Homo sapiens: one gene and its partner. The protein of the gene in region 2 purifies or fractionates together with the protein of the main gene of each other region. This does not show direct contact. Each region holds a gene or a part of one and is shown on either strand. Other genes may lie near its edges.

Region 1 (3,500 bases), on a different chromosome or scaffold from region 2:
CATTTTACCCCAGGAAGTTCTTAGTGGTGTAGGGGAATCGGGTAAGTGAGCAAGTAAAAGAGCAGTGGTCACACAGCAAGTACCAGGAAAGGCTAAGCCTAGAGAGCAAAATAACAACAGTCATTCAAGAGCTGCCAAGTGCCCACTGTGTGCCAGGTCCAGGGCTAAGCCCTGAGGAGGTAGGAGCAAACAAAGTAGAAACTCTCCTGCTTTCTGCTCACCATCTTGGAGCAAAGACAGACAATTAACACATTTTCCAAACAGGTACACAACTACAATTGTGCTAAATGCTTTGAAGGAGTCCTTTGTTGAGTACCCACATTTAGCCCACAGTATCTCAAACACCCTAGGAAATAGGTAGTATTATCCCCATTTTACAGGTAAGGAAACTGAGGCACTAAATCTTTGCTTCAGGTCATGCAGCCAGGAAGTGAGCAGCTGGGTTTGCCTCAGACTGTCTAATGCCACAACCCTCGCTCTTCTCCACCCTGCTGCCTTACATTCGCCAAATGGTATACAGAAGCAACCAAACAAAATGGACAAATAGTCATTGAGTTAGAAGCACTGTCATGGCAGATTGGACCAGTCTTGTTTACTTCTGCATCCCAGTGCCCAGGACAGAGCCTGGCATATTGTAAATGCCCAATAAACATTTGTTGAATGCATGACTGAGTCCCTACAGTGTACCCAGATGTGCAAAGGTGCATTGTTAGGGGGCAGGGGATGAGTGAGTGTACAGAGTACTGTCCCTTCCTTCGTAGTGCTTTGTGTTTGCCTGGAAAGGCAGAGAACTCAGGAATAGGTGCACAATACTGAAGCTGAACAACACAGGCGGGCGGTGTCCCAGTCAGCCCCATGATTCATTGCCTTGGGATTGGAGCAGACAATAAGTGGCTGTGAGTTGGAGGAAGGAGAGGTCACCGTGGGCAGGAGAGGACTGTGAAGGTTTCCTGGAGGGCCAGAGCCTGCCCTCAGTGGGATTGATGTGGGGTGGGTGTTCCAGGTGTGGGGAAGGTATTCCAGGTAAAAGTGAGGAAGTGGGGAAAGGAGACTGAACCAGAAGCCTCCAAAGAAACTGCTGATCCAAAGATTTTGGATTTGAATAAAGGAGGGACTGGCCATGATTTTGTTGGAGAGGAGGGGGCATTCAAGACAGAGACAGTAGCTGGGTCTAGCTGGGATCTGCAAATGCACGACCTCAAAGCCAGGGGAGATGGGCAGAAGAAGGGGGTTATTGTTGTGATGGGGTACAGCTTGTGGTTGACTAGGGCAGAGGTTGGGAGAGGCAAGTGTGAAGTAGGGGCTGGATATACGGAGATGGATGTCAAATAAGAGCCAGATGTTCATCCAGAGACCAGAGGGTGTGGGGTGGGGGAGTGGCCAGGGAAAGGCTGCTGGTGTCATTATCATCGGCAGCTCTGTCCCAGTTAGACCTGCTGGGCTCCCTGTTGCTAAGGACAGGCCAGGGCAGCTCCCAATGCCAATTCCAGGGCTAGTCAGCCCTGACCACAGTTCTGACCCCAATCTTGACCTGTGTTCCCTTGTACGCACCTGCCCATGGCAGCAGGAGGGAGAGGAGAGGAGCCCTAGCAACTGTGCATGTTCCTGTGTGCATGCTCTGGGGCATGTGTGCATGCTCTGGGGCATGTGTGCACGCTCTGTGGCCTGTGTGCACGTTCTGGGGCATATGTGTTGGGGGAAAGTCGGGAAGGCTAACACCTACTCCTCAACCCTAACCATTTTCACAAGCCTTGCCCAATTCAAGCTGGCCTTTTATGGGGGTGGAGAATACTGGGCACCGTGGGTGATTGTCAGAAAAAGAGGATTTGAGATGTCATACCTCATGCATATGCACTGACTTGGCATCTCAGAACAAAGAGAAATGAGACATCATCCCCTCTCCCTCCAGCCAACCTTAATGGAGCCCAGTGTGACAAGTCAAGGTCCCAGGGTCTGGGGTGTGTAAGGACGTACTTGTGTCTCTTTCCTACCATGCATGTGGGGAGGGGTGCTCCAGTTGGGGATGCTCGAGGTCTCACCCTTCCACTGGCTCTCTCTCCCTATCTCAGTATCAAGGTAATTACCATCGGTGACTAAGGCAGGATGCTCGTGAGAAGGAGGTGTTGGGTGAAGCACAGAGCAGAGAGCAAGGAGGAAAAGAAGGAAAGAGGGCGGGCAGCCGGGCTTGGGCCCAGGGAGCGTCAGGTGGGTGAGGGTGTTCCATGGGCGGGAGCTGCTCTAGGCATGCCAGGCCTCTTACTGGCTCCTCCAGCTGGGGCAGACACTGCTGCTACACCCAGCTGTGGATGAGATTCAGGGATCTGAGTTTCTGGAATCGGGGTTCTGTGCTGGGACTGACTGCTCTTGTGGAGAATCGTGTGTCAGTGGGAGAGGGTGAGTATGGGGCCAGCTCTGGGCAGCTCAGGGCCAGGCTTTTCTTCCCAGCTCATGGCCTCTGTTTTGCCTCTTCCCCTTGCAGCCCTCCTGATTCTGGGGCCTCCCAGGATGGAGCACCTGAGGCACAGCCCAGGCCCTGGGGGGCAACGGCTACTGCTGCCCTCCATGCTGCTAGCACTGCTGCTCCTGCTGGCTCCATCCCCAGGCCACGCCACTCGGGTAGTGTACAAGGTGCCGGAGGAACAGCCACCCAACACCCTCATTGGGAGCCTCGCAGCCGACTATGGTTTTCCAGATGTGGGGCACCTGTACAAGCTAGAGGTGGGTGCCCCGTACCTTCGCGTGGATGGCAAGACAGGTGACATTTTCACCACCGAGACCTCCATCGACCGTGAGGGGCTCCGTGAATGCCAGAACCAGCTCCCTGGTGATCCCTGCATCCTGGAGTTTGAGGTATCTATCACAGACCTCGTGCAGAATGGCAGCCCCCGGCTGCTAGAGGGCCAGATAGAAGTACAAGACATCAATGACAACACACCCAACTTCGCCTCACCAGTCATCACTCTGGCCATCCCTGAGAACACCAACATCGGCTCACTCTTCCCCATCCCGCTGGCTTCAGACCGTGATGCTGGTCCCAACGGTGTGGCATCCTATGAGCTGCAGGCTGGGCCTGAGGCCCAGGAGCTATTTGGGCTGCAGGTGGCAGAGGACCAGGAGGAGAAGCAACCACAGCTCATTGTGATGGGCAACCTGGACCGTGAGCGCTGGGACTCCTATGACCTCACCATCAAGGTGCAGGATGGCGGCAGCCCCCCACGCGCCAGCAGTGCCCTGCTGCGTGTCACCGTGCTTGACACCAATGACAACGCCCCCAAGTTTGAGCGGCCCTCCTATGAGGCCGAACTATCTGAGAATAGCCCCATAGGCCACTCGGTCATCCAGGTGAGAGGCCCCCTCCGTATAACTGTCAGGGTGACCCACCACTAGAAATGGGAGCCCACCCAACCAGGTGAGAGTTCCCTTCACTTAGGGGAAAAACTGCCAGAATACTGTAGTGAGACCCCTTCTCCCCAAACTCAGCCAGGGGAGTCTTTCCCACC
Region 2 (4,426 bases):
TGGATGTGAGTGGCTGCAGGGGACATGAGGATACAGTTCAGAATCAGGCAACGGTCTGTGAGCTGAAGGCAGGGGCAGGGAGTCTGGTGCTCTCTCTAGAAAGTCCTGCCTCTGTGGCTCCTGTCTTGGGCCAGGGACCATCCTGCCAGTGAGGAACACACAGCTGTGTGCTCCCATCCTGCTTCCCCACATGGCCCTGAGCTCTCTGGCCTGTGCCCCGTGAGACTTACTTTTTTTGTTGGAGCACCAGAGATGAAGGAGAAAGAAGAGGAGGAGGATGAAGAGGATGATGACCACTGAGGTCCCAATCAGAATGTGCAGGTGTCTGGGGTTACCTGGAAGAAGAGGAGACACCAGTAAGAAGCTAATCATAGCAGTTTCTCTATATGAATTGTCTTGCATTTCTTGATTGACAGGTAACCACTTACAGCATCTCTTTCGGACAAGCACCCAGATGGCGGGAGATCTAGCTTCCTCCTGCTTTCTCAGTTATAGCTCTCATAGTAACCATGGAACGTGCTGAGGATACAACTACTTTAGTTGAGATGTTTGACCCCTTCAAACCTCACATTGAAATTTAACCCCCAGTGTGGGAGGTTGGGCCTCTTGGGAGGTGTTTGGGTCATGGAGGTGGATCCATCATGAACAGATCAATGCTGTCCCAAGGAGACGGGGTTAGCAAGTTCCCTCTCTATTAGTTCCTGGAGAGCTGGTTGTTAAAAAGAGCTTGGAAGCTCCATTGCTCCCCCTCCCCCTTGCTCCCTCTCTTGCCGTGTGATCTCTGTGGTCTCTGCACAGACAGACCCTCCTTCCCTTCTGCCAGAGTGGGAGCGGCCTGAGGCCATCATAAGAAATAGATGCTGGTGCCATGCTTCCAGTACAGCCTGCAGAACGGTGAGGCAAACCAATCTCTTCTTTAGAAGTTACCCAGGCTCAAGTGTTCCTTTAGAGCAACAAAAATGGACTAAGACAGCAAAGTCCTGAGATCAGGAGGATTGTCCCAGAACAGCCTGGGCTGTCTTCCTGTTCTTCCTGGAGGAGGACGTCATGCAGTGCTTTAGCTGAGTGCTTCCTGTGGCTCCAGGGTACAAAACCCAGGCTGGGCTGCTTTCTGGCTTCCCCCAGCTACACTGCAAATGGGGTGACTCCACATGTCTCGAGCAGCTTTTCTGAGCCTTGGGGAACTGGCTCACATTGAAATGTAGGCTTCTGTTGTCACTCGCTGCTTATCTGTTAGTAATGAACCTGCCTATGTAACGTATTCTCTGTGTGTTCTGTCTCCCTGGAGTGACGGTGAGTGATAGGAATTGGCATAGGCCCAGGTGCAGTCCAGGAGGTGTTTAGAGTCTTCTCTGGGAAGACTGGACTGGGATTGATACACAGCGAATGTGCTTTAGGATTTCTACATCCACGGCATTCTTGAGTTAAACAACTTGCATTCTCCAAGAAAAGGAAACAAAAGTGAAATCAATATAAAAAAAGCGAAGTAGAATTCTCTTATGTCAAACAGCCAGAAAATAGTGTTGAAGCCCGTGTGAAATGTGCTACTCTTTGTGATCTCGGGAGACACATGTTAGGCTGCTGTTCTACCTCAGAGGCTGGGGGAAGGACCACCCCCTCGACTATCTATTGCTTCAATACCACCTGTCCTCCTGTGAATTAGTAGGAAAGGGGAGCAGGAGCTAGTGCTGGCACTGATCTCTGATTCCAAGATCTGGACTCACTCCAAGGAGTATTAGCATTTACCTCCCCATGATCTATCTGTATTTCCACAGGTGATTGGAAGTAGGGGTGAGATGGGGGATTTGGGTGAGGGGGCAAGTTTTTTTTGTGATGACCAGAGCACTTTCTCTATTCCAGGATTTGTGCTGGAGGATTCAGCGGGCTTTCACATTTTCTATATGATCTCATGCTCACAGAAAGCCAAATACGGAAGAGGTTTTAGGCTGATTGCCTAATGGATAAGATAAAGGATCAAAGAAGTAATTATAGAGAAATAGAAAAATGATGATGGGAATTCAGGTGCCTTTGTCATTCGTGTGTGTTTTATTATATTTATGCATTTCTTATTTTTATTTTTTGAGATGGAGTCTCCTTGTGTCACCCAGGCTGGAGTGCAGTGATGCGATCTCCACTCACTGCAACCTCCACCTCCTGGGTTGAAGTCATTCTCCTGCTTCATCCTCCAGAGCAGGAGCTGGGATTACAGGGATGCACCACCATGCTCGGCTAATTTTTGTATTTTTAGGAGAGATAGGGTTTCACCATGTAGAGATAGGGTTTCTCCATGTTGGCCAGGCTGGTCTCGAACTCCTGACTTCTTGGAATCCACTGGCCTTAGCCTCCTGCAGTGCTGGGTTACAGGAGTGAGCCACCGTTCACAGACTTGTATACTATGCTATAATAGGTCCCTTCATTTCCACCACCCCTCATATATCTGTCACTCCTTTGCCAGGTATTGATTTATGTGTAGGAGGAATAAATCTCAGAAAGAAATTAATTTAGCAAGGATTAAACAACTAGGAAACTCAAACCCAGCAAGCCCTCCCTGCAAATGATTCTACCTCCCAAACATAGCTTATATCCATCTGCTTCATCCACTTAGGGTCTAAATCAGCACCACATTTCACCAGTGGGGCGGCAATTGCCTTTTCCACTGTCTCCTAGATTCCAGTTACGCACCTGGGCCTCCCTTATTTTCATGTCAGTCACTATTAATCATGTAGGGATTCCTGGCTACCCCGAGGTGAATCCAATGGCTGTGAGTGTCAAACACACACTCCTTGTTGCTCCTTAGTTTCCTGTGTACCCAGTGTGCTCTCCGTCTCTCCACAGTCGTCTTGTCATTCTCCCCACCTCATTCCCAGCATTTCAGGCAGAGCCTCTTCCTTCCACATCAGATTGTTTTCAGCTTTCTGCCTTCACGGCTGACAGCTGTGTGTGGAAAATCCTTCCGCCAATCTTTCAGGGGTTCAATCCGTGTTTTTCATTAATGTCACAAATATCTGATTAGTGAGACCTTCTCTGTCACCCAAAATTATACACTCAGCATTATCTATTATTTATTTTGAATTCTGGCTGGGCAAAGTGGCTCACGCCTGTAATCCCAGTACTTTGGGTTGCTGAGATGGTCGGATCACTTGAGGTTGGGAGTTTCAGACAAGCTTGGCCAACATGGTGAAACATCCTCTCTACAAAAAATATACAAAAAGAATTAGCCGGGCATGGTGGCAGTTGCCTGTAATCCCAGCTACTCGAGAGGGTGAGGCAGGAGAATCACTTGGATCCAGGAGACGCAGGTTGCAGTGAGCCAAGATCGTGACACTGCACTGTAGCCTGGAAGACAGAGGGAGACTCTGTCTCAATAAATAAATGAACGAACAAACAAATAGATTTCATGCACAGATGCTTCCCAATGGATCATTCATTTATTGGTCCACTTGTGCACTCATTTTCTGTCCTCCCATTTAACCATCTGCAATATCAGTGTCCCAAGAGCAGAGGCCAAATGCATCTTGTTCACCGTTCGTGGAAGGCAGGAGAATGCTGTCCCACCCCAAAATGTCCCTGTCCTGGCCTCCATAGCTTGTGAATATCTTATTTTACATGGAAAGAAGGAATGAAGATTGCAGATGGAATTACGGTTGCTAGTCAGCTGAACTTAAAACAAGGGTATCCTGAATGATTTCCGGGAGATTATGATGGATTTTCATCTTGGTGAACCCAATAGAATCCCCAAGTTTTCAAAAGATAAGGAAGAAGGGAGAGCAGCATTCAGAGAAAGAGGTGTGGTAAGGAAGAAGGGTCTGAGTGATGCCATGTGAGATGTGACCAGTCTTTGTGGGCTTTGAGGAAGGAGGAAGGGGACCAGGAGCCAAGGAACTGGGAGCCTTTAGAAGCTGGGACAAGTGAGAAGCAGATTCTTGCCTGGAATCCTCAGAGGGAAGGCAGCCTTGCTGTCACCTTGATTTTAGCCCAGTAAGATGCACTTCCTACTTTGAGCTACAGCACTGTAAGATAATTAAAAAACCGTTTTGTTTTCACCCACGAATCTTGTGGAAATTTGTTATGGCAACAATAGGAAAGGATTCCAACTGCACAGCCTGAGCATGGGGCCGTGGCTGAATGAGTCAGTGAGTCGAAGTGTGCGTGCATGAGCTCTGTTCTCTGTTACGGCAAGGCTCTTGCTCTGCTGAGTCAGCCAGGGTTGCTTCATGACCAACAGTAATTCATTCCTTGGCAAGTGGAACTTCTCTAAAACACCTCGCCCTCATCAGATGTTCCCTTCCCTTCCCTCTCTCAAGTCCCCAGGAATTTATCCTCCAGTTAGGAATGCAGGAAGAAAAAACACTGCATGTTTCCTGAGAAGGATGTCAGATTGGCAATCATTCTTCTAGCTTGTAGGAGGTCTCACCTGCAGGACATT

Evidence for each region. Proteins that work in one complex are often made in the same cells at the same time.
Region 1: the proteins of KIR3DL1 (region 2) and PCDH1 purify together in Homo sapiens (affinity purification with mass spectrometry; one large-scale study listed by BioGRID and IntAct). This does not show direct contact.

Annotation. Positions count from the first base shown.
Region 1 is NC_000005.10:141,868,411-141,871,910, reverse strand, and holds part of PCDH1 (protocadherin-1 isoform 2 precursor), read left to right. Parts: intron 1-2,283; exon of another isoform or gene 2,284-2,306; coding exon of another isoform or gene 2,307-2,394; intron 2,395-2,479; coding exon 2,480-3,342; intron 3,343-3,432; exon of another isoform or gene 3,433-3,500. UniProt on the Homo sapiens protein: May be involved in cell-cell interaction processes and in cell adhesion.
Region 2 is NC_000019.10:54,825,270-54,829,695, reverse strand, and holds part of KIR3DL1 (killer cell immunoglobulin-like receptor 3DL1 isoform 1 precursor), read right to left. Parts: intron 336-4,426; coding exon 231-335; intron 1-230. UniProt on the Homo sapiens protein: Receptor on natural killer (NK) cells for HLA Bw4 allele. Inhibits the activity of NK cells thus preventing cell lysis.